Homo sapiens: one gene and its partners. The protein of the gene in region 1 purifies or fractionates together with the protein of each later gene. This does not show direct contact. Each region holds a gene or a part of one and is shown in the gene's direction. Other genes may lie near its edges.

Region 1 (3,500 bases):
AGGCAGAGAGAGATGGCAGCTGGCACTGACTGGAGGTGCATTGGAGCCTGCTGAGGTGGCAAGGGGCCGCGGCGTGGGCGAGACTGAAGTCCTTCCAGGAGACCCTCCTCTCTAGACCGTTGCCCCGCCACAGATGTGGCCTTCCTCTCTGTTTGGCTCTTTCTTTTCTATGCCCATCTGTCTCAAGGTCTCTGGCCAGGTGGAGCTGTTGCCCCCCTGGGCCTCCATGCCTCCAGTGGGCTTCTAGCCAGGGCACTATCTGAATGTCCTACCTCTAGCAGGCTTTGCCAAGAGAAACACTCTCTAGATTTCTGGCAGTTGCAGATGCATCTGTGCAGCATGTTTGAGAACTGGTGCTGTGCCAGGCATCGTGCACAGATGGGTACGGACGATGACTGAGGCCTAGAGAAGGGGATGACTTACCCAGCACCAGACCCGGATGGCAGCCGAGTCAGGCCCCGTGTGCTTGCTCCTGGAGATGCTCCTGAGCTGATGGGTCACAGCTGCTAAGAAAGGAGCTCTCGTGGTCCATGGGGATCTGGGGTCTCCCGTGTAGCCATAGTGGGGTGGGCTGGAGCATCTCCAGAGGAGGAGGCAGAGGCCTGTGTGTCCTTGTCAGTTTGGGACTCCATGGTGCCCTTCCTGCCTGTGCCTGCGCCATTCCTCATGCAGGTGCCCGGGAGCTGGGGGAGTTCCATGCCTTCATTGTCTCGGACCTGCGGGAGCTCCAGGGTCAGGCGGGCCAGTGCATCCTGCTGCTGCGGATCCAGAACCCCTGGGGCCGGCGGTGCTGGCAGGGGCTCTGGAGAGAGGGGTGAGTGCTGGGGCCTGGACCATGCTGCTGTCGGGAGGGGGGCCCAGTGCCAGTCTGGCCTGTGTCCTGGTCACCTTCAGCTGTCAGGACTGTACTTGGCTGTCTCCAGCAAGGCCCCTGAGTCCCTGCTCTCGTGACACCATGCTTGTCTTGGCTCCAGGCAATCCTTGTGAGGCCTGGGACCAAGGTGGCCATTGGGCCTGGGGTTTCAATAGGGCAGACATCATCACGGGCTCGGGCAGCAGTCCTGGGAAGACGCATCCAGAGGCGTGAAGTTCCTCTGGGAAAAGAGAGGGCTCCAGGGTGGCCGCTGCCCAGAAGGCCCTGTGCTGCAGAGCTGCTTCGGGTGTGGGAGGGGCTGCAGAGCTGGGGCACGGGGTTGCTGGCAGGAACTCAGGGCTCTCTGGGTCCCCTCCAGGCTTCCCCCCAGCCTGCCGGCAAGTTGACACTACCAGTTCTCGGGAGGGGCTTCTGCTGAGATGAGGTTTCTTCCAGGGGTGAAGGGTGGAGCCAGGTAGATGCAGCGGTAGCATCTGAGCTCCTGTCCCAGCTCCAGGAAGGGGAGTTCTGGGTGGAGGAGGAGGAGTTCCTCAGGGAGTTTGACGAGCTCACCGTTGGCTACCCGGTCACGGAGGCCGGCCACCTGCAGAGCCTCTACACAGGTAGTGCCCCGAGGGGCTGTGCTGGGCACGTGCTCTGCCTGCCGAAGTGAGGAGGCTGGGCAGGTGCCTGGGTTCCCCCTGCCCAGGCCCAGTTTGGTTCTCTTCAGCGTGGAGAGATGATTCTGTCCCAGGAGCCGGGAGGAGGGTGATGATTCTGTCCCAGGAGCTGGGAGGAGGGTGGGCTTGTGGGAGGGGCTGGCTCTGTCTGTGGCCGTAGCTGCTGCTTAGACCCTGCCAGGGTTCATGAGGCCACCATGGCGGGAGGCCAGCGAGGAGCCGTGTCCCACAGCTGATGCCTGGTGTTTTCTCACTAGAGAGGCTGCTCTGCCATACGCGGGCGCTGCCTGGGGCCTGGGTCAAGGGCCAGTCAGCAGGAGGCTGCCGGAACAACAGCGGCTTTCCCAGCAACCCCAAATTCTGGCTGCGGGTCTCAGAACCGAGTGAGGTGTACATTGCCGTCCTGCAGAGATCCAGGCTGCACGCGGCGGACTGGGCAGGCCGGGCCCGGGCACTGGTGGGTGACAGTCATACTTCGTGGAGCCCAGCGAGCATCCCGGGCAAGCACTACCAGGCTGTGGGTCTGCACCTCTGGAAGGTAACTCAGCCCCGTCTGGCTCACGCTCGGTTCAGCAGGTGGTGTGGAGGCCCATGGAGGTCTGGGTTCTAGGACTGGCTCTGCCGGGACACATGTGACTCTGCCACGGGCCCCACCAGTCTCCCCCCTCCTTGGGCTGTTGCACGGGGTTGACGTCTGCTGGTGCTCCCAGACCCGGCTCTGACCTGAGACTGCAGGTCTTTCTGCCTTGCCGTGTGCCTCATTGGCCAAAGGAAAGCAACAGAGTCTGCAGCCAGGGCAGGACCCGCAGGAGGGGCCTGGACCCGGGGGGCTCCTGGCAGCGCCGTGCCTTTCTGAGGCAAGGAGGTAGAGCCAGCGGCTGAGGACCTGTCAGGGCCAGTCCCAGCTCTGCAGCTTGCTGTGTGACCTGGCACACATCCTCTCCCTGCCTCCCTCAGTCTCTTCCCCTGCAAGACGGGGTCCTGACACGGATCTCATGGGATTGCTCTGAGGCCCAGGCAGTCCCAGGCTCAACCACTGGTTCACAAAGTGTGTTGTTTCCAGGAAGAACAGATGGGGGCGCCTGAGGGCAAAGGGCCTGAGTGTGGGTCGAGGATATGCCGGCTGCTCGCTCAGGGGCTGGGTTTTCATCTTGTGTGTCTTGACAGGGTGTGACACTTGGCACCACACTGTTCCCTGTCCCTTCATGGATGTGGCCCACATGATGTTCCTTTCCTCTTGCAAAAGAAGTTGCTGGAAGGCCCACTGTCCAGCAGCCCCCAGGTTGCCTGGGCCACGGTGCCTTTGTGGGCCCAGCTACAAGGAGGACTTGCAGGCTCGTGTCTGGGACAGATACTGGCGCCAGGGCCAAGTGAAGCCCGGGATTGGTGGGCATCTCTAGCTGGTCCCTGAGAGAGGGTGGAGGGTGCTGACAGGCCTTGGCGCTTTCATCTGTCAACTCCAGAGGCCCTTGTGCTTGCAGCAGGGAGGTCAAGGCCAGGGCGTCTGACCCCGGCCGCTCCTCCACACTGAGCCTCCTGCACGTGCTCACAGGTAGAGAAGCGGCGGGTCAATCTGCCTAGGGTCCTGTCCATGCCCCCCGTGGCTGGCACCGCGTGCCATGCATACGACCGGGAGGTCCACCTGCGTTGTGAGCTCTCACCGGGCTACTACCTGGCTGTCCCCAGCACCTTCCTGAAGGACGCGCCAGGGGAGTTCCTGCTCCGAGTCTTCTCTACCGGGCGAGTCTCCCTTAGGTGAGAGGAACCGCGCAGTGCTGCTGGCTCTCCGAGGCCACAGGCCCTTCCAAGGCAGGATTTGGGCACTTTCCCTCTGTGGTTGGCAGGTGTCCATGTGGGAACTGAGGCCACCGGGAACCTGCTGCCAGCGCCCTCCCATGTTTGTCTTCTTGGCAGCGCCATCAGGGCAGTGGCCAAGAACACCACCCCCGGGGCAGCCCTGCCTGCGG
Region 2 (3,500 bases), on another chromosome or scaffold:
CATGATTGTGTGGATGCATTCCATCCTGGGCAACAGAGCAAGACCCTGTCTCAAAAACGTTCATTGGGCTGGGCACGGTGGCTCACGCCTGTAATCCCAGCACTTTGGGAGGCTGAGGTGGGCAGATCATGAGGTCAGGAGATCGAGACCATCCTGGCTAACATGGTGAAACCCTGTCTCTACTAAACAAAATACAAAAAATTAGCCGGGCATGGTGGCGGGCATCTGTAGTCCCAGCTACTTGGGAGGCTGAGGCAGGAGAATCGTGTGAACTTGGGAGGCGGAGCTTGCAGTGAGCCGAGATTGCGCCACCGAACTCCAGCCTGGGCGACAGAGACTCCGTCTCAAAAAAACAACAAAAAAAATTCATTGTTTGCATACATACCGTGAATATCGACATGAAGATTACCTTGAATTTCTGAAAGTACATCATAGGAGTATATCTTGAAAAATGACTCATAGCAAAATGAGAATTACAAAGTGTTAACATTAATGATAATTAGTTTAGGTAGTATTATTTTGAGTTCTGAATTAGTTTATAGATTTATATAATACCAGACATCTTAGTATAGAGGTGAATTGAGTAAATTTTTCAGATGTTTCTGCTATCTTGATACACACACACACACACACACACACACACACACACATTTATAATTTATAATTGGCAGCTAATTTTCTTGACTCTGTTTATGGAACCAAGCCACATAGTCTCCTGTTCTCTGTTGTGTTGCTCTGTTCTTTCTGAAAACTGGCTTTCTTTACTTACTGATCACTACTCATGGCAAAATTGGCATTCGGCCTTTACTTCATTCATTTCCTCATTTATTCATACATTCAGTAATTATTAATTGTTTTCCACATTCCAGATGCTCATTGGTGAATGAAACAGGTGGGTTCTTTGCCCTCATATAACATACACTCTTGTTGTAGCTTGAGCTATGAAAGATATAAGTAGTGTGTAGAGAAAGATGGTGAAACCTGCTTAATAGGGCAGTTGGCAGAGGCTTCTCTGAGAAGGTGATATTTAAGTTGTAACCTGACATTGAGAAGTTATCCATGTGAGTAGCAAGGGAAAAGTATTCCAGGCAGGGGGGAAAGCTATGAGAAGGCCTGGAGGTGGGAAAGAGCTTAATGTGTGGGAGGAATTGAAATGACACCAGTGTGCCTGGATTGGAGAAGAGGACAGTGGCTAGAGATGAGCTCAGAGAGATGGGCACGGATTCAATGATGCCGGCCATGGAAAGGAATTTGGATTTAAGTCAGAGCTCTGTGTGCTGTCATTAAAGGTTTTTAAGCAGTTTATGTTTTTAAAACATCCTTTTGGCTGCTTTGGGTAGAGTAGATTGTAGAGGGTTAAGAATAAAAGAGAAACAAGTTAGGAAACTATTTGAATAGTTTGTGATTTGAGATGGTAGAGTCAGTGGAGATAGAAGTTGAGAGATTTGCGATATTTTGGAGTTATAAATGAAGGACTTGCTGATAGACTAGATGTGGGGAATGAGGGGAAAAAAAGAATCAATCCTGGCTCCTATGTTTTGAATTGAAACAACTTGGGGAATGAGGAAAGACCGGGAGAACAGGTTTGGATATCTATAGTCTCTTTCTTGGAATTTCATAATCCCAAGAAAGTGAATCTGATTGGCCTAAAATGTGATATTAAGTGGTTCCTTTAGAAGAGGAAGTGGGTAGGGAGGAAATGATGCACACTGATTTCTATTTTTTTTTTTTTTTTGAGATGGAGTCTTGCTCTGTCGCCCAGGCTGGAATGCAATGGTGCAATCTTGGCTCACTGCAACCTCCGCCTTATAGGTTCAAGCAATTCTCCTGCCTCAGCCTCCCAAGCCGCTGGGACTACGGGCGTGTGCCACCACACCCAGCTAATTTTTGTATTTTTAGTAGAGATGGGGTTTCACCATATTGGCCTGTCTGGTCTCGAACTACTGACCTCAGGTGATCCACCCACCTCGGCTTCCCAAAGTGCTGGGATTAAAGGCATGAGCCGCCATGCCCGGCCTGATTTCTATTTTTATCCTATTGTTTTCACTCAGTTAGAGTAGAGAATGGAAAACATATCTAGCCGTTTTTAGGTGTTGACATGTTCAGGTGTGCTGGTAACCTGCTATTTTAAAAAAAATCTTTTTATTGCAAAATAAAACATTAGTACAGAACACATGTATGGCTTGGTGAATTATTATAAGGCAGATACCTTTGTAATCACCCCTCAGGTTGAGAAATAGATCACAGTGGCCTTTCCCTATAAGTAATCATTTTCCTGACTTGTGTAGTAATAACCCAAATGTGCATTGCTAGATACTGTAGGTTAGTCTTGATGATTAAGAAATAGTAAGTTTTGGCCAGACACGGTGGCTCACACCTGTAATCCCAGCACTGTGGGAGGCCGAGGTGGGTAGATCACCTGAGGTCAGGAGATCAAGACCAGCCTGACCAACATGGCAAAACCCCATCTCTACTAAAAATACAAAAATTAGCTAGGCATGGTGGCAGGCACCTGTAATCCCAGCTACTCGGGAGGCTGAGGCAGGAGAATCCCTTGAACCCAGGAGGTGGAGGTTGCAGTGAGCTGAGATTGCACCATTGCACTCTAGCCTGGGCAACAAGAGGGAAACACTGTCTCTAGGTTGTGTTTTGTTTGTTTGTTTGTTTGTTTGTTTTTTGAGACAGGATCTTGCCCTGTCACTGAGGCTGGAGTGCAGTAGTGCAATCTCAGCTCACTACAGCCTGACCCTCCTGGGCTCAAGGGATCCTCCTGCCTCAGCCTTCTGAGGAGCTGGGACTATAGGCATTGGCCACCATGCCCAGGTAATTTGTGTATTTGTAGACATGGGGTCTTGCCATGTTGCTTAGGCTGGTCTTGAACTCCTGGGCTCAAGTGGTCTTGCCTTGGCCTCCCCAAGTGTTGGGATTATAGGCATGAGCTACAGCACCCAGCCCAAAAAGCAGTTTTGATATGAGTTGTCACTTTTAATCTTTAGTTTAGTCCTCCATCCTTTTCCTTTTCCTGTTGGAGAACCCAGGTTGTTTGTACTAGTTTCCCAGAGTTGGATTTTGCTGATTGCTTAATATAGGTCAGTTCAACATGTTCCTTTGTCTTCTGTATTTTCTGCAAACGTGCAGCTGGATCCAGAGATGGAGCAGACTCAAGTTCGATCCCTTAGGCATTGTGATATATATATATATATAGATGGGGTTTGGCAAGACCATGGGAATATCATAATGTCTAATTGTCTTTCTTTTTTGTGATGTTAGCGGCTGTGGATGGTTAGTGGGTGTTGCAATATAATGAAATTCTAAATACATCATTTTGCTTTCATTTATTAATTGGAATGTTTTTATAAAAAGTAACTTCCCCTCATCTTCTGTTTAGTTACCCAGTGGTACTGTTGATAAAGGAAAGACAGGATAAATGTTTGATTCTTTCCTTTTATTTACAAGTTTTCAAGATAACGAATTAGTTCCCTGTCTTTCTCCAAAGGTGG
Region 3 (3,500 bases), on another chromosome or scaffold:
GATGCCACACTTTATTTTAGAGGAGCCCAGATCCTCAGAGATGCTGCCACTAACTCTAAGCATCTGTCTTTTAAAAAGGTCAAGGAGCTCTGCTTGGAGAGAGCAGAGACTATCAGAAAAGCGAAAATTTAGAAATCCTGTGGAGATAGTAACAGGGATTCTGTCAGCCAGAGAACAGGTAGCCCCTTACCTTCTCCATGTATGATACTTGCCTTTCAAATAATGATCAGAAAAGAAATTGGCAGGCATCAGATGCCTTCTGATGTGTTACACTGAAAATAGCCCTTCTGTGGTATTCCTCCCAAAAATGTATAACCTGAATCTAATTGTGAGGAAACATTAGACCAATCCCAGTTAAGGGTAAAATCTACTAACTCTGAGTGAAGCATATATGAGAATTATTTACACTAGTATTATAATTCTTAAGTTTGAAATGATTCTAAAATTAAAAGTTAAAACTTTTCTTATCTATAAAATGTGTGTAATCATACCTACCTCATAGGATTGTGAGAGTTCAGTAAAATAATAATTAGCATAGGCTGGGTGTAATGGGTTCATGCCTGTAATCCCAGCACTTTGGGAGGCTGAGGCAGGAGGATTGCTTGCGCCCAGGAGTTCGAGACCAGCCTTGGCAACATAGGGAGACCCCATCTCTACAAATAATTTTTTTAAATTAGCTGGGTGTGGTGGTGCATGCCTGTGGTCCCAGCTACTTGGGAGGCTGAAGTATGAGTATCACCTAAGCCTGGGAGGTGGAGGCTGCAGTGAGTTGTGATTATGCCACTACGCTCCAGCCTGGGTGACCCAGCAAGACCATGTCTCAAAATAATTATTATTCTATATTATACATTATATAACAAATACATAATTATATAAGGTACAGAGCTGCTGCCACATAATATATGCTCATTAAATAATAGCTGTTATTAAAATTGTCTCTTGCCATCCTCAGCAGGGTGGGAAATACCACTGTTCTTAAAAACTATTGCAGAGTCCAAGTGTCTGTAGCCTAGGGGAACCATCATCCTTCTGGTACACTAAGAGTTTAGGAACCTGAACATATTTTAATACAAATTGATACTGTTCAGATACTGAACAGTTCAGATTATCCTGTTCAGATTATCCTGTAGACACGAATTGATCACTTACTATGCATTAGATACTGTGCTATGTGCTGAGAATGAATAAGATGAATATATAAATGAGATAAGGTCCTGCTTTTAGAAGCACACAGACAGATAACCACTGTGCAGCAAAGTAAGTGCTGTCATGGAGTTAAACGGCACATGCTTCTGTAGGAGCATAAAGGAGAAATTGCTTACTGAAGAGCAAGGGAGCAGGGTAGAAAGAGATGTCAGCAGAGCTGAGTCTTGACATTTGTATAGGTGTTTTCTTAGTTTGGAAGTATATTCCAGGTACTGGGAACATGTGTGTTGTCTCCAAGGAAGGAGATAGCATGGCAGATTTAAGAAGCTAGAAATATTTTAATGTAGTTGGCAGATGAAATACATTTGGGGGAGTGGTACTATCTAAGGTAGGAGTCATGGGAGTCATATGTCAATATAATCACATATCACTGTAAGTATTTGGGTCTTACTCTTATCCTGTCTTATCCTTAAGAACAGGCAGTCTCACTGAAGTATTTTAAGGAAAGGAAGCGACATGATCCAAATTGCATTTAGGAAAATCACTCTGCCAAATGATTTAGAAAGATGTAAACCTAGAGGCAATGAGATTGGGCCAGGGGTTACTATAGTAATCTAGGCAAGAAGTAATAAGACCTAAACTTAAGCAAGGCCAGTATGTATTAGAGAAGAGTAGAGAGATGAAAGAGACGTTTATGGAATTAAAGAAAAAGAGTCACCCAGATTTGGTGACAACTTCAATTCAGGAGAGGCAGCAAGGACATTCTTGTTTATATGGCTCATTCAGTTGGATGAACAGTGATGCTATTGATCAAGATAGAAAATATAGAAGAAGAAATAGATGAGATTATGGGTGCAGAGAAAATAATAAGTTTATTTTCAAACACAGTAAGTTTGAGATCCTTCTGGGACATTGATGAGGTGCTATCCAGTGGCTAATTTGATCCTTGGCTATGAAGCTTCAGAGAGATCTAAGCTAAAGTTACAAATGTAAAAATCAGCCATCTATCAGCAGTCATTTGCAGCCAAAGGAAGAGTATGGTTCTCTATACTGAAAGAATAGAGAAAAGAATAAAGGCATAACCCTGCAGAGCACCAATATCCAAAGGTTGGCTGAAGTTGAGGAGAGGCAATTAAGAGAAGTAAGAGGAAAACCAGGAGAGATGTATCATGGAGTCCAAGGGGTATAGAGTTTTAAGAAGGCAAATAATGTTTAATGTAGTAGAAGAAATCAAATAATATAAGAGTCTAAGAAGTTGGGCATGGTGGTGTATGCCAATAGTCCTGGCTACTCAGGAGGCTGAGGCAGGAGGATTGCTTGAGGCCAAGAGTTAGAGGCTGTAGTGCACTATGATTATGCCTGTGACTAGCTACTGCACTCCAGCCTGGGCAGCATAGTGAGATCCCATCTCTAAAAAAAAAAAAACACACACAGTTAAGAGTCTAAGAAATCTTGGGTTTGGCCTTCGGGGGATCACTGATGATCTTGGAGAGAGCAGTTTCAATGGGGTAGTTGGTTAAATGGCTAAGTGGCACTTTCTACAGTTTCTAGAAATTTGGTCAGGGAATCTCATGGTAGCCCCTGGCTCCCTATTATCAGGAAGAAATAAGTTCCGTGATGCAAACGAACCTTTTATTTCTGTCTTGTATGAACTAAGGAAATTGTTTGGATTTTTCACTTCTAAGAATAGTTCAGCTATCTCAAGAAATGACAGCAACTTGATATTAGCTTTTGAAGTCCTGTGTTAAAAGGCTCCCCAGCTGCCTGTTTAGGTTAATGGGTCATGCTTTATTTCAACAGTATGGATGGATTTCGACTGGTGAAATTAAATGAGGTCATCCGACAAGTGGACATTGTTATTACCTGTACAGGTATGATAATGACATTTTAAATGGGGTGGCACTTGGGAATGTTTTTATGGAGCAGGTGCAAGATGATTGGAAATATTCTGAAAAACCAAACTCTAAAAGCTAGAGAGAGATAGTAGCCCACAAAGCCAGCCAGTCTTTCACATTCTTCCTAATTCTTTAGAGCTCCGACCAAAGGTATACGATTAGGTTATTCCTATGTAAAAATGTTTCTCTTCACCCTTGAAGACAACTGTTATATCTCCATTCATCCTAGGAGATAGCTAGAGATGAGATTCACTTATAAAGTTTTATTTGGGAAGCCAGATATTTTTTTTTTCCAAAAATATATTTATTTTTAAAAACAGAAAATCAGATCAGTTTTATAGAGTCAAATTTTCAAGAGACAAACCAGAGTTTGGATTCCAGCTTAGAGTGCAAGTGAAGCATCAGTAATCTCATGCAGAAGATTTGTCTCTGCAGGAGGTACATTCTGCTTGACTGCAA
Region 4 (3,500 bases), on another chromosome or scaffold:
TTCTCAATATAAATTCCTACATCTCTCCCTCAGGCCAGAGGACCCTTTGCCACCAGAGTGAGATCCTAGAGACCATCATCCTGGTAAATCCCAGTGCAGACAGCATCAGCTCTGAGGTAAGGCCAGGGCCTGTGCCTTGCCAAACAGGCCTGGTGCAAGTGCTATACCCACCCTTGCCAGTGCTACCACTATTAGGCCAAGAATTCCTCTCTCTGCCATCTAAGCTGACGTATTGTCTCCAGCCCACTCTGGAGGTGTTATGAGGGACATAAGTTGGGAGCATGTTCTTGAGGTACTGAGGGGCCATTCATTGCCTTTCCCTGGATTTCCTATATCTGTGACCACTCCCCTTCTTCCATTCCAGGTTCATCATCTTCTTAGCAGCTCATCAGCTTATAAACTACTAATCTTGAGTGGGCAAAGTTTAGAGCCTGGGGGAGACCTCATCCTACAGAGTGGCACCTACTCATATGAAAACTTTGCCCAGGTCCTTCACAACCCCGAGGTAAGTTCCATGCCAGAGTGTCTGGGAGAAAGGGTAGCACTAGAGCTGTGGGAGGGATCTAAGGGAAAGTCTCATATTGCATGACCATGGGGGGCCCTGGCAGAAAGGTAAGAGTCCACCTTGGAAAGAGGTGAAGATTAGGGTACTGAATCTAAGTCAGACCAAAACAACTCTAGTGACCTGATCAGGTTTCTATCTCCTATTCTTCTAGATTTCCCAATTGCTCAGCAATAGAGACCCTGGGATACAGGCCTTCCTTACCGTGTCCTGCTTAGGGGAAGGTGATTGGAGCCACCTGGGATTATCCAGTTCCCAAGAGACCCTGCACCTCCGGCTAAACCCTGAGCCCACTCTGCCCACCATGGACGGCGTGGCTGAGTTCTCCGAGTATGTCTCTGAGACTGTGGACGTGCCATCCCCATTTGACCTACTAGAGCCCCCCACCTCAGGGGGCTTCCTCAAGCTCTCCAAGCCTTGTTGCTACATCTTCCCAGGTGGTCGTGGGGACTCTGCCCTCTTTGCTGTCAATGGTTTCAACATCCTGGTGGATGGTGGCTCTGATCGCAAGTCCTGTTTTTGGAAGCTGGTACGGCACTTGGACCGCATTGACTCGGTGCTACTCACACACATTGGGGCAGACAACCTGCCAGGCATCAATGGACTACTGCAGCGCAAAGTGGCAGAGCTAGAGGAGGAGCAGTCCCAGGGCTCTAGCAGTTACAGCGACTGGGTGAAGAACCTTATCTCTCCTGAGCTTGGAGTTGTCTTTTTCAACGTGCCTGAGAAGCTGCGGCTTCCTGATGCCTCCCGGAAAGCCAAGCGTAGCATTGAGGAGGCCTGCCTCACTCTGCAGCACTTAAACCGCCTGGGCATCCAGGCTGAGCCTCTATATCGTGTGGTCAGCAATACCATTGAGCCACTGACCCTCTTCCACAAAATGGGTGTGGGCCGGCTGGACATGTATGTCCTCAACCCTGTCAAGGACAGCAAGGAGATGCAGTTCCTCATGCAAAAGTGGGCAGGCAATAGTAAAGCCAAGACAGGCATCGTGCTGCCCAATGGGAAGGAGGCTGAGATCTCCGTGCCCTACCTTACCTCTATCACTGCTCTGGTGGTCTGGCTACCAGCCAATCCCACTGAGAAGATTGTGCGTGTGCTTTTTCCAGGAAATGCTCCCCAAAACAAGATCTTGGAGGGCCTAGAAAAGCTTCGGCATCTGGACTTCCTGCGTTACCCTGTGGCCACGCAGAAGGACCTGGCTTCTGGGGCTGTGCCTACCAACCTCAAGCCCAGCAAAATCAAACAGCGGGCTGATAGCAAGGAGAGCCTCAAAGCCACTACCAAGACGGCCGTGAGCAAGTTGGCCAAACGGGAGGAGGTGGTAGAAGAGGGAGCCAAGGAGGCACGTTCAGAGCTGGCCAAGGAGTTAGCCAAGACAGAGAAGAAGGCAAAAGAGTCATCTGAGAAGCCCCCAGAGAAGCCTGCCAAGCCTGAGAGGGTGAAGACAGAGTCAAGTGAGGCACTGAAGGCAGAGAAGCGAAAGCTGATCAAAGACAAGGTAGGGAAAAAGCACCTTAAAGAAAAGATATCAAAGCTGGAAGAAAAAAAAGACAAGGAGAAAAAAGAGATCAAAAAGGAGAGGAAAGAGCTCAAGAAGGATGAAGGAAGGAAGGAGGAGAAGAAGGATGCCAAGAAGGAGGAGAAGAGGAAAGATACCAAACCTGAGCTCAAGAAGATTTCCAAGCCAGACCTAAAGCCCTTTACTCCTGAGGTACGTAAGACCCTCTATAAAGCCAAGGTCCCTGGAAGAGTCAAAATAGACAGGAGCCGTGCTATCCGTGGGGAGAAGGAGCTGTCTTCTGAGCCCCAGACACCCCCAGCCCAGAAGGGAACTGTACCACTCCCAACCATCAGTGGGCACAGGGAGCTGGTCCTATCCTCACCAGAGGACCTCACACAGGACTTTGAGGAGATGAAGCGTGAGGAGAGGGCTTTGCTGGCTGAACAAAGGGACACAGGACTAGGAGATAAGCCATTCCCTCTAGACACTGCAGAGGAGGGACCCCCAAGTACAGCTATCCAGGGAACACCACCCTCTGTTCCAGGGCTGGGACAAGAAGAACATGTGATGAAGGAGAAAGAGCTTGTCCCAGAGGTCCCTGAGGAACAAGGCAGCAAGGACAGAGGCCTAGACTCTGGGGCTGAAACAGAGGAAGAGAAAGATACCTGGGAGGAAAAGAAGCAGAGGGAAGCAGAGAGGCTCCCAGACAGAACAGAAGCCAGAGAGGAAAGTGAACCTGAAGTAAAGGAGGATGTGATAGAAAAGGCTGAGTTAGAAGAAATGGAGGAGGTACACCCTTCAGATGAGGAGGAAGAGGACGCGACAAAAGCTGAGGGTTTTTACCAAAAACATATGCAGGAACCCTTGAAGGTAACTCCAAGGAGCCGGGAGGCTTTTGGGGGTCGGGAATTGGGACTCCAGGGCAAGGCCCCTGAGAAGGAGACCTCGTTATTCCTAAGCAGCCTGACCACACCTGCAGGAGCCACTGAGCATGTCTCTTACATCCAGGATGAGACAATCCCTGGCTACTCAGAGACTGAGCAGACCATCTCAGATGAGGAGATCCATGATGAGCCGGAGGAGCGCCCAGCTCCACCCAGATTTCATACAAGTACATATGACCTGCCCGGGCCTGAAGGTGCTGGCCCATTCGAAGCCAGCCAACCTGCCGATAGTGCTGTTCCTGCTACCTCTGGCAAAGTCTATGGAACGCCAGAGACTGAACTCACCTACCCCACTAACATAGTGGCTGCCCCTTTGGCTGAAGAGGAACATGTGTCCTCGGCCACTTCAATCACTGAGTGTGACAAACTTTCTTCCTTTGCCACATCAGTGGCTGAGGACCAATCTGTGGCCTCACTTACAGCTCCCCAGACAGAGGAGACAGGCAAGAGCTCCCTGCTGCTTGACACAGTCACAAGCATCCCTTCCTCC
Region 5 (3,500 bases), on another chromosome or scaffold:
GATGGGGTCTCACTGTGTTGCCCAGGCTGGTCTTGAATTTCCGGGCTCAAGTGATCTACCTGCCTTGGCCTCCCAAAGTGCTGGGATTATAGGAGCGAGCCACCAGACCCTGTCCTTTTCTAGTTTCTTAAGGTGGAAGCTGGGGTCATTAGTTTGAGAACTTTCTTCGTTCCTAATATAGGTGTTTCGTGATATAAATTTCTCTTTAAGTACTGCTTTAGGGATGCTAAAATTTTGATATGTTGTGTTTTCACAGAGAATGGGATCAGGGAAGTTTTCAAAGGTTCTAGTAATCTCTTTCTTAAGCTGGGTGGTAGGTACATGGATACATTTGTTTATTTGTGCATTTATTCTTTATATCATACATATAAATATTCTTTTGAGTATATTCTGTATTTAACAAGGAACTTTTAAAAAATGTGAATGGGAGGTAATGATGTAATCATCTGGTGGGTAAACAACTCTTTGAGCGGTTATGTTGTGAAGTGAAGCAGTGAAAGGGGGTAGTAATTTTAAAATGATGTGAGATAAAAGGGGAGATTGTTTTCGTATTGTTTTGTTTTAAAGCAAGTTTTCTGATTTAAATAAGAGTCATAAACTTTATGAAACCATACAAGTAGCAGATATAAAAGTGATATCCTGATGTGAAATTTGATGTGTTTAACCAAAACTCTTGCTTTAGAATAATACCACTTAAATTTTTTCTTAGATAGCAGTTTGAGTTCTGCTGCAGTACAAAAAACAAATACTTCATTGAGTTCCAAGAATTCCCTATCAAAAACTAGACAAATGATCTTGGTCTAAAGAATTTTCATGTCAGATATTGTAATCAGTTACCTGTCAATATAAATTATAAATACCTCTTAAAAGTAGTCATAAGGCCGGGTGTGGTGGCTCACACCTGTAATCCCAGCATTTTGGGAGACGGAGGTGGGTGGATCACTTGAAGTCAGGAGTTCAAGACCAGCCTGGCCAACGTGGTGAAACCCCATCTCTATTAAAAATACAAAAATTAGCTGGGTGTGGTGGTGCACGCCTGTAATTCCAGCTACTTAGAAGGCTGAGGTAGGAGGATCACTTGAACCTGGAAGGCAGAGGTTGGAGTGAGTCAAGATCATGCCACTACAGTACAGCCTGGGTGATGGAGTAAAACTCCATCTCAGAAAAAAAAAGTAGTTATAAAAGAGTAAGATGAAGGTAAAAATAAATTATTCTTGTTTACCAGAGGGTAAGGAGCAAAATAAGCTGTTTGCAGCCAGTTATCTGTACTATGCCTATTTATTTAATGACATATAACTTCAGGATGTTTCATAAGATAACTGAGTAATTACTAAGCTGTGCAATTTATTTGGTTTCTGTAGATAATAGAACATACTTAAATAGTGAATTGCTTTTCTGTCTCTCTCTCTCTTTTGGTCTTTATGGCATGTCTTGCCAATCATATTTTTTCTCTCCAATAGGTTGTATGGTTCCTGGAGCTGGTGCAATTGAAGTGGCAATGGCTGAAGCTCTTGTTACATATAAGAACAGTATAAAAGGAAGAGCTCGTCTTGGAGTCCAAGCTTTTGCTGATGCCTTACTCATTATTCCCAAGGTACAACTACCCTTTCGGCCAAATAACAACTGCTTAGACATAAAGGTGTTTAATTACAAATTGCCCATATTATCTGATAGTTAATGGAGTAGACAGGTATTTATGTGCATTTCCTTACACAGTTTTCTCTTAGATATTTTACAACTAAAGCAGGGAAACTTTTGCGATAACAGCCCAGGATCCTTGCACGATCTCATGAAATAGCCAACTTACCCCCTTGCTTCTTTCTCTGAGTTCCAAAAATTAAAGCAGCTCCAAAAATTTCCTTCAGAAATGACTCATGATTAACTAATCATAATGAAAAAGTTTAGAATTTAAAATTTAGTTAGATTTTGTGGTACATCTTTGTTTTGTTAGTGGTATCCAAATGTAATCAATTTAAATTGTGGAGAGGGAGGGCTTGAGGCTCTTTAGCACTCCTAGATACAACCTTACATTTGTCATCATCATTATAATTCCTAGAAAAAGAGAAAACAGAATTTTTCCATGTGGCAACCTAAGGACAGAAAGCGACCATTCCTTTGTCTTTGCCTTAATTGGTTTCAAACCACCTTAGAAATATAGTAAAACTACTTCAAAGATGCTATTACCATGAATTAAAACATTATTAACAATGTTAGCAAAATCTCTTTGCTAATTTTTATTAAAATTTTTCATAATTTGTGAAATCTTTGTGAATTAGATTTGCTATTTTTTCTTTCCCCAGAGCAGCAAAGTCAGTATGATCCTGCTGCTGACAGAAATTGGTAACCCCAGTACACATTACATTGGTGGTACCTTTTTCCTCATCAGCTGGTGATTTGGGGCCACTTGGAAGTGAGCCTGGTTTGGAGTGCAGGTATCTCCAACCCTGTTACCACAGGTCGTGACTCTCCTCATGAAGATGAGGGGCACAAAGGTGCTGCAAATATTCTGGTTTCCTTAGCAAGTGCCTATGAAGAACTGGAGGGCATGTGGCTAGCGGCACTAGAGGAAACAAGAATATCATTCTACTTCCTTCCATACTAAAAACAAAACAAAACAAAACAAACCTTTTGCAAGGAGGGAAATTAATGTAGTAGGGTAAAAATGGGGGAACTCTGATGTCCTCAGAATTTAGTGTGACGTGCATAGGGGAAATGTTTAAGTAAATATAAAAACTACTAGATAGATGAAATAATAATTTGATTTAGATTAAAAGTGGAATTCTTCAAAAGGAGATGATTGCCATGTTATGGATGTGTTTTTACAAGAGTAAAGAGTATTTTTATATTTGATATATGTGAAGGTATTATGCATATATATATAATATATATTATTATTTTTATTCCTAAAGGTTCTTGCTCAGAATGCTGGTTATGACCCACAGGAAACATTAGTAAAAGTTCAGGCTGAGCATGTCGAGTCAAAACAACTTGTGGGCGTAGATTTGAATACAGGTAAGAAAGTGAAGGAAAATTAGCTGCTTAATAAAGAGGTTATTCTTTAGTTACCCAGATCTTATGGTAAAGGAGTAGAGGTTTGGGTAACTTTAATATTTAAATTTTGGATGCCTTTAGTTTATTTTTGAGCTTCTTAAAAAATGTTCATTCATTTAAGAAATAGTTATTGAGTGCTTGTTTTCCTCTTGGGCTTCACACAGAACAAAACAGACAAAAATATCTGCCCCTGGGAGCTTATGTTGTAGTGGGAGAAGGTAGGCAGTAAATAATAACTTTAATAAATAAACTCCTTCAGCATTTTAGAAAAAGTAATGAATTATATGGAAAAAAGAGTGCTATAATAATGATCATGAATGCTAGTACAGGAGGGTGGAGAGAGAATGACAGCTTAAAGGGTTGGTCAGGGTAGGCATCATCTAGATGTCTGTTGAAAAAAAGTGGAAGGAAGTGAGGAAATTAGCCATGTAGGCAACTGGGGTTAAGTG
Region 6 (3,500 bases), on another chromosome or scaffold:
AAATGCAAACTGAGGCTATTAATGTTTCCAGGAAGAGCCATAAAATTCTCCCTTATAATTTGACCTTTCCTTAAGCACGTTAACTCTTCCACATCTGAATTCTTCCCATTGATCATATGAGAAATTTCTGCCTGTATTTAGTGGACACACATCTATTTGAAAATATTCCTCCTGGTTGAAAAGGTCTGTGGTGTGTAATCTAAAGATATTTTAGATGTGCAGTGAACTGAGTTTCCAGAATCTTTTTTTTTTGTAATGTCTATGTATAATCCACCTTGATTCTTTACAGGATAGGAAGACTGAATACAATATAACCAAGGGTAAATACAAATATGCCTTAAGGATCCAGTGTGTATTTAAGTAACACACTGCTATTTATTCCTTCAAGTCTGTATACATGACTAATGTCCAACAAAAATGATTACATGACTGGGTGTTAATTTAGAGATAGTTCACCTGCTGTGTTATACCTAGAGGTTCAAGCCCTTACCTTTAGGAGGTATGCAATAAATGTCTGTTGTTCTAGAGATTTGTTCCTGGCAATTGAGAATGCTGTATACAAAGGTACAATGATGGATACCACACACTGGCTCCACCATGAGCAACCTATTAGGAAAAATGTAATATATAATATGTAAACATGTAAAACACACACACACACCAGAGTTCTGGGGTTCCCCAACTTTCCCTGGCTTACTCTCCAGACCTCCCTTCTATGATGCTCTCTGGGGTTCCCTCTGGGCCATCCCCTTTGGGAGGGCAGGAGAAAGAGGACAGTGGGAGGAGGAAGGAAGAGGCTAGAGAGTAGGGCATGAGCACAGGAAGCTGCCCTCATCCCGCCTCTTGCCCTCCTGTTCCTCTCACCCTGGATATTCCTTTCAGCCTAGGGAAAGGAAGTCTGATAGGACTTCCTTTCCGTTCAGCCTAGGGTAGGAATAGCTGATTCATGTCCCCAACTCCATAAATGTTTTATAAAGTATAAAAAGTTGCCATTTTTCTTTGCCTCTGGATAAGAAAATTGAATACAATGAACAATTGTGAATAAAAGAGCTGCCTGCCAAGCTACTCAGGTAACAGAAAAGTGCCTGGAAGGACAGACAGGCCAAGTCTTGAAGATTGAGTGGATCCACTCTGTTTATCAAAGATCACATAAATCTTGGATTGATATCCAGGGCTCGATAAACCAAAGTCAAAAACGGGATTGGTAAAGGAAAGAAATTACACATGTATACTACCAGAACATCATTTTAGAAACAAAGGCCCGTGCTTGAATGGCAGCCCCCGTGTATTTTCTTTGCCTTTATTCTACATTTTCTTGCCACCTACAAGTGGAGTTAGTCTGTCTACAAGCTAGAGTTAGTCTGTTGGCCTCTTAGCTTCTTAAGAACTAACATCTTCCTGCCCTTTCTAGTCCCTCCCTGGAGTACAGCCTGTCATTTTCCTAACAACTGTTTTCTTTGACTCTTCCAGAAGAGGTGCATTTACTTTTTATGAGGGGCAGAAGCTCAGTCCACACTGCTAATTATCCCTCCCTTGTGGCCTGGTGGAGAGACCTCCCTGGCCCTCCCATTTTGTGGGCATCCACTGCTAAGCCACCAAGCTCTTCAGAAAAGGAGTTCCCACATCCTCCCTGAAAGCCTGAGAAATATTACAGTGATGTTGTCCAAACCACTCTGAAATGACTAACTGGAAGTCTCTCAACTGTCTTTCTTTCCCTCCCTAGGAATCCGATCATGGGACACAAACCTGATTGAATGCAACTTGGACCAAGAACTCAAACTTTTTGTATCTCGACACTCTGCAAGATTCTCTCCTGAAGTCCCAGGTGAGGCTTCCGCTCAGTGTTGGTCAGCCTAGAATTCCAAAGGACAAGGAGCAAGCTAGAAAGCTTTGTCTGAGGCAGCAAAAAGACTCTCTTATTGCTAAAAGGATACTTTGTATTTGTTATTATCAACTAGGTTAGCCAGCAGCCACAGTTTAGGAAGTCACTCTAGGTTATCACTGTGTGGGTTATCTATTTTGTGGATTCTTAATGAGTTTTTAAGTTCTAGGGTTGTGTATGTGTATATATATACACACACACACATCAATGATCACACAAATTTTGAATTGATATCCAGGGCTTGAGAAAGAGAGAGAGAGAAAGAGAGAGAGATAGTATAGTGTGTGTATGTGTATCTCACTGTACTCTGAGCTCAAGGGACTACAAACTATTTAAATGTTAATCTTACTCAAATGAAATTCTGAATACAAATTGGATGCTCCTAGGATCCCAGAACTGTCTTCCTGCAAAAGAAAAAGGAAACATATACTGCATTTCAAAATGAAATATACATCATCATTTCATAATTGCATTATCACCCGCCATTGCATTACCACTTATCTTTCTTCGTGTGGGTAAAAGAATCTGATATTACAAACTTCTGTTAAAATAGCCTTTTTTTCAGAGATGAAAAAGAATATCAAAGAATAATTAAAGGTAAGGATGCAAAAATTTGTCATATGTGAAGATGTTCCCACTAACCAGCCACCTTCCTGGGGCTATGATCTGACCCATGCCTCTGGCGCTGGAGATGTATTCATACTGACCCATCTCGTCTTCTTCTTGTGAGCAATAACCTATATTCCTCCCATTTGGTCACATTTAGGAATTATGAGACAGTTTCTGGCCCATAAAGACTCCAAACCTGGAATATATTTCTCCAGACCTTTGCCATTGACCCATCAGAAACACTGTATTACATCTTATTTCTTGACCATCACTTGAATTTTACATAAGAGAAAGCTATTTTCTGCCCATATGCTTTTGTTATATGATTCCTAATTTTATTGGCATTGATATAACATCAGGAATGAGATTCAGCCTATTTTGACTGGTTAGGTCATATTCCATTAGTCGTGTATATACATTGATATTTGAAATCACTTTTATAGAATATCAGTGCCTTCGTGAATCACATTTGGCTGCAGTAATATGCCCATAGGACTGTCTCAGTTCTTCCTTTTGAGTTTAATATTAGAATAAAATCCCATACATTTCAGTTATTGAAATGCATTGTAGCTTTCAAGTATGGAATTGAGTAAATGTGCTAAGAAAAGCTTAGCAAGAAATGGTTTATTAAAAGTTAACTTCCTGCAAAGCCACATGAAAAATCAGTTTTTAAGTAACTTTGCTTTGAGAAAAAAGGAATCCAGAGACTGTCAGACAGCATATGATTTGCTGAAGGAAAGGTACAGTATAAGGTTGTTTCTCTTGTTGTTATTTTATTGTATTTTTGTCTTGCGATATCTCCGTATCTTTTAAAACCATCTCACAAAAAAAATGAGGGAAGTGCTGTTTTCCAAAAAGTATGATTATTTCAAAATGTAAAAACTACAAGCTTTTATTTTTTCTCTGTAGGTTGTTCTGGCTTTTTTACTATGATTGTTTGTAAGACTTCTTTTTTTGTGTGTACAAGTCATGTGGTTCTCATTGTGTTCATTCATATTTGGACTGACTT
Region 7 (2,767 bases), on another chromosome or scaffold:
GAGGAGGGTCTCTGGCCTGCTGTGCTGTTCTTTGTTTTTTTTCTGAGACAGAGTCTCACTCTGTCATCCAGGCTGGAGTGCAGTGGCGCAAACATGGCTCACTGCAGCCTCGACCTCCTGGGTTCAAGCAACCCTCCCACCTCAACCTCCCGAACAGGTGGGACCACAGACACGCACCATAACGGCCAGCTAATTTTTTTTTGAGATGGAGTCTTGCTCTGTCACCAGGCTGGAGTGCAGTGGTGCGATCTGAGCTCACTGCAACCTCTACCTCCCGGGGTCAAGCGATTCTCCTACCTCAGCCTCCCAAGTAGCTGAGATTACAGGCATGCGCAACCATGCCCAGCTAATTTTTGTATTTTTAGTAGAGATGGGGTTTCACCATGCTGGTCAGGCCGGTCTCGAACTCCTGGCCTCGTGATCTGCCCGCCTCGGCCTCCCAAAGTACTGGGATTACAGACGTGAGCCACTGTGCCCAGCCTACGCCCAGCTAATTTTAAAATTTTTCAGTAGCACTGGGGTCTCACTATGTTGCCCTGGCTGGTCTTGAACTCCTGAACTCAAGTGATCCTTTGGCCTCGGCCTCCCAAAGTGCTGGGATTATAGGCATAAGCCACCACGCCCGACTCAACGTTTAATTTTGGATGAACCGCCAGACTGTTTTCCACAGCAGCTGCTTGACGCTAGCCAGTCTAATGGGTGTGAGGTGGGATCTCATTGTGGTTTTGATTTCCATGTCCCTAATGATTAGTGATGTTGCATCTTTTCATATGCCTATTGGCCATTTGTCTGTCTTCTTTGGAGAAATGTCTATTCAATTCCTTTGCTCATTTTAAAATTTTGTTTTACTTTTTAGAGACAGGGTCTCGGTCTGTTACCCATGCTGGAGTGTAGTGCAAACACAGCTCATTATAGCCTCAACTTCCTGGGCTCAAGTGATCCTCCCAGCTCAGCCTCCCAAGTAGCTGGGACTACACAGGTGCATGCCATCGTGCCTGGCCAATTGTTTAATGTTTTGTAGAGATGGAGTCTCACTATGTTGCCCAGGCTGATCTTGAACTCCCAGCCTCAAGCGATTCTCTCGCCTTGGCCTCCCAAACTGTTGGGATTACAGGCATGAGCCACCATACCTAGCCCCCTTTGCCCATTTTTAAATTGAGTTGTTTTCCGTTGCTGAGTTTTAGGAGTTTTTTAAATCATTCTGGACATTAATCCTTTAGCAGATAAATGGCTTGCAAATATTTCCTCCCATTCTGTGAGCTGCCTTTTTATTCTTTTGATAGTGCCCTTTGATGCACAAAAGTTTTAAATTCTCATGAAGTCCATTTTGTCTATTTTTTTCTTTTGTTGTCTGCACTTTTGATGTCAGACCCAATAAATGATTGCCACATCGATTTTTTTTCTTTTTTCTTTTTCTTTTTTTTTTTTTTCAGATGAGTCTGGCTCTGTTGCCCAGGCTGCAGCATGGGAGCACTATCTTGGCTCACTGCAACCTCCGCCTCCCGGGTTCAAGCGATTCTCCTGCCTCAGCCTTCCTGAGTAGCTGCGATTACAGGCACCCACCACCACACCTGGCTAATTTTTTTTGTGTTTTTAGTAGACACGGGGTTTCACCACGTTGGCCAGGCTGGTTTCAAACTCCTGACCTCAAGTGATCTGCCCGCCTCGGCCTCCCAGAGTACTAAGATTATAGATGTGAGTCACCATGCCTGGTCAAATCCAACAGTGAGAAGCTTCTACCCCATGTTTTCTTCCAGGAGTTTTAAGTTTTCCATTTCACATTTAGGTCCATTTGGAGGTAATTTTTGTATGTGGTGAAAAGATCCAGTGTCATTCTCTTGCATGTGGAAGCCCAGCTTTCCCAGCACCATTTGTTGAAAAGACTATCCTTTCCCCATTGAATGTTTGGAACGCTTGTTGAAGATCATTTCAGCATACATGTGATGATTTATTTCCGGGCCTCTATTGTATTCCATTGGTCTATATGTCTGTCTTTATGCCAGTGCCACGCTGTTTTGATTACTGTAGCTTTGTAGTAAGTTTTGAAATCTGGAAGTGTGAGTCCTCTATCTTGATTCTTCTATTTCATGATTGTTTAATCTCCTTTTCACATTGTTCATTGTTCATGTATAGAAATTCAACTGTGTTTTGCCTGTGGACTTTGTACCTTGCTTCTTTGCTGAATTCGTTTATTATTATTTTTTGAGATGGAGTCTCACTCTGTCGCCCAGGCTGGAGTGCAGTGGCACAATCTCAGCTCACTGCAACCTCCACTTCCTGGGTTCAAGCAGTTCTCCTGCCTCTGCCTCCCGAGTAGCTGGGATTACAGGCACCTGCCACCACGCCCAGCTAATTTTTGTATTTTTAGTAAGAGACAGGGTTTCGCCATGTTGGCTAGGCTGGTCTTGAACTCCTGACCTCAAGTGATCTGCCTGCCTCAGCCTCCCAAAGTGCTGGGATTACAGGCGTGAGCCACTGCACCCCCAGGCCTGATTTTTTACATTATTGTTCATAAAGTCTGTTGAACTGGCATTTTCTTGTAGAATTAAATATCTGTGCCTGGCTTTGGTATTAAGACAATTCTGGTCTTATAAAATGAGTTAGGAAGTGTTCCTTCCTCTTCAGTTCCTCGGAAAAGTTTGAGAAAGGCTGATGTTAGTTCTCTAAATGTTTAGTGGCTTCCCCAGGGCTTTTCTTTGTTGGGAGGTCGTAAGTTACTGATTCATTCTCCTTGCTAGCTACAGGTATGTGCTGATTTTCTATTTTT

Evidence for each region.
Region 2: the proteins of CAPN10 (region 1) and STK3 purify together in Homo sapiens (affinity purification with mass spectrometry; one large-scale study listed by BioGRID and IntAct). This does not show direct contact.
Region 3: the proteins of CAPN10 (region 1) and AHCYL2 purify together in Homo sapiens (affinity purification with mass spectrometry; one large-scale study listed by BioGRID and IntAct). This does not show direct contact.
Region 4: the proteins of CAPN10 (region 1) and MAP1A purify together in Homo sapiens (affinity purification with mass spectrometry; one large-scale study listed by BioGRID and IntAct). This does not show direct contact.
Region 5: the proteins of CAPN10 (region 1) and CCT6B purify together in Homo sapiens (affinity purification with mass spectrometry; one large-scale study listed by BioGRID and IntAct). This does not show direct contact.
Region 6: the proteins of CAPN10 (region 1) and MAP1B purify together in Homo sapiens (affinity purification with mass spectrometry; one large-scale study listed by BioGRID and IntAct). This does not show direct contact.
Region 7: the proteins of CAPN10 (region 1) and MAP1S purify together in Homo sapiens (affinity purification with mass spectrometry; one large-scale study listed by BioGRID and IntAct). This does not show direct contact.

What each region holds. Positions count from the first base shown.
Region 1 is NC_000002.12:240,593,234-240,596,733, forward strand, and holds part of CAPN10 (calpain-10), read left to right. Parts: intron 1-672; coding exon 673-814; intron 815-1,309; coding exon 1,310-1,476; intron 1,477-1,790; coding exon 1,791-2,071; intron 2,072-3,085; coding exon 3,086-3,288; intron 3,289-3,447; coding exon 3,448-3,500.
Region 2 is NC_000008.11:98,815,689-98,819,188, reverse strand, and holds part of STK3 (serine/threonine-protein kinase 3), read left to right. Parts: intron 1-3,500. UniProt on the Homo sapiens protein: Stress-activated, pro-apoptotic kinase which, following caspase-cleavage, enters the nucleus and induces chromatin condensation followed by internucleosomal DNA fragmentation.
Region 3 is NC_000007.14:129,406,530-129,410,029, forward strand, and holds part of AHCYL2 (adenosylhomocysteinase 3), read left to right. Parts: intron 1-2,946; coding exon 2,947-3,017; intron 3,018-3,328; exon of another isoform or gene 3,329-3,500. UniProt on the Homo sapiens protein: May regulate the electrogenic sodium/bicarbonate cotransporter SLC4A4 activity and Mg(2+)-sensitivity. On the contrary of its homolog AHCYL1, does not regulate ITPR1 sensitivity to inositol 1,4,5-trisphosphate.
Region 4 is NC_000015.10:43,520,608-43,524,107, forward strand, and holds part of MAP1A (microtubule-associated protein 1A), read left to right. Parts: intron 1-33; coding exon of another isoform or gene 34-116; intron 117-364; coding exon of another isoform or gene 365-505; intron 506-716; coding exon of another isoform or gene 717-866; coding exon 867-3,500. UniProt on the Homo sapiens protein: Structural protein involved in the filamentous cross-bridging between microtubules and other skeletal elements.
Region 5 is NC_000017.11:34,930,461-34,933,960, reverse strand, and holds part of CCT6B (T-complex protein 1 subunit zeta-2), read left to right. Parts: intron 1-1,460; coding exon 1,461-1,594; intron 1,595-2,909; coding exon 2,910-3,012; intron 3,013-3,500. UniProt on the Homo sapiens protein: Component of the chaperonin-containing T-complex (TRiC), a molecular chaperone complex that assists the folding of proteins upon ATP hydrolysis.
Region 6 is NC_000005.10:72,113,975-72,117,474, forward strand, and holds part of MAP1B (microtubule-associated protein 1B), read left to right. Parts: intron 1-1,723; coding exon 1,724-1,825; intron 1,826-3,500. UniProt on the Homo sapiens protein: Facilitates tyrosination of alpha-tubulin in neuronal microtubules. Phosphorylated MAP1B is required for proper microtubule dynamics and plays a role in the cytoskeletal changes that accompany neuronal differentiation and neurite extension.
Region 7 is NC_000019.10:17,729,480-17,732,246, forward strand, and holds part of MAP1S (microtubule-associated protein 1S), read left to right. Parts: intron 1-2,767. UniProt on the Homo sapiens protein: Microtubule-associated protein that mediates aggregation of mitochondria resulting in cell death and genomic destruction (MAGD). Plays a role in anchoring the microtubule organizing center to the centrosomes. Binds to DNA. Plays a role in apoptosis.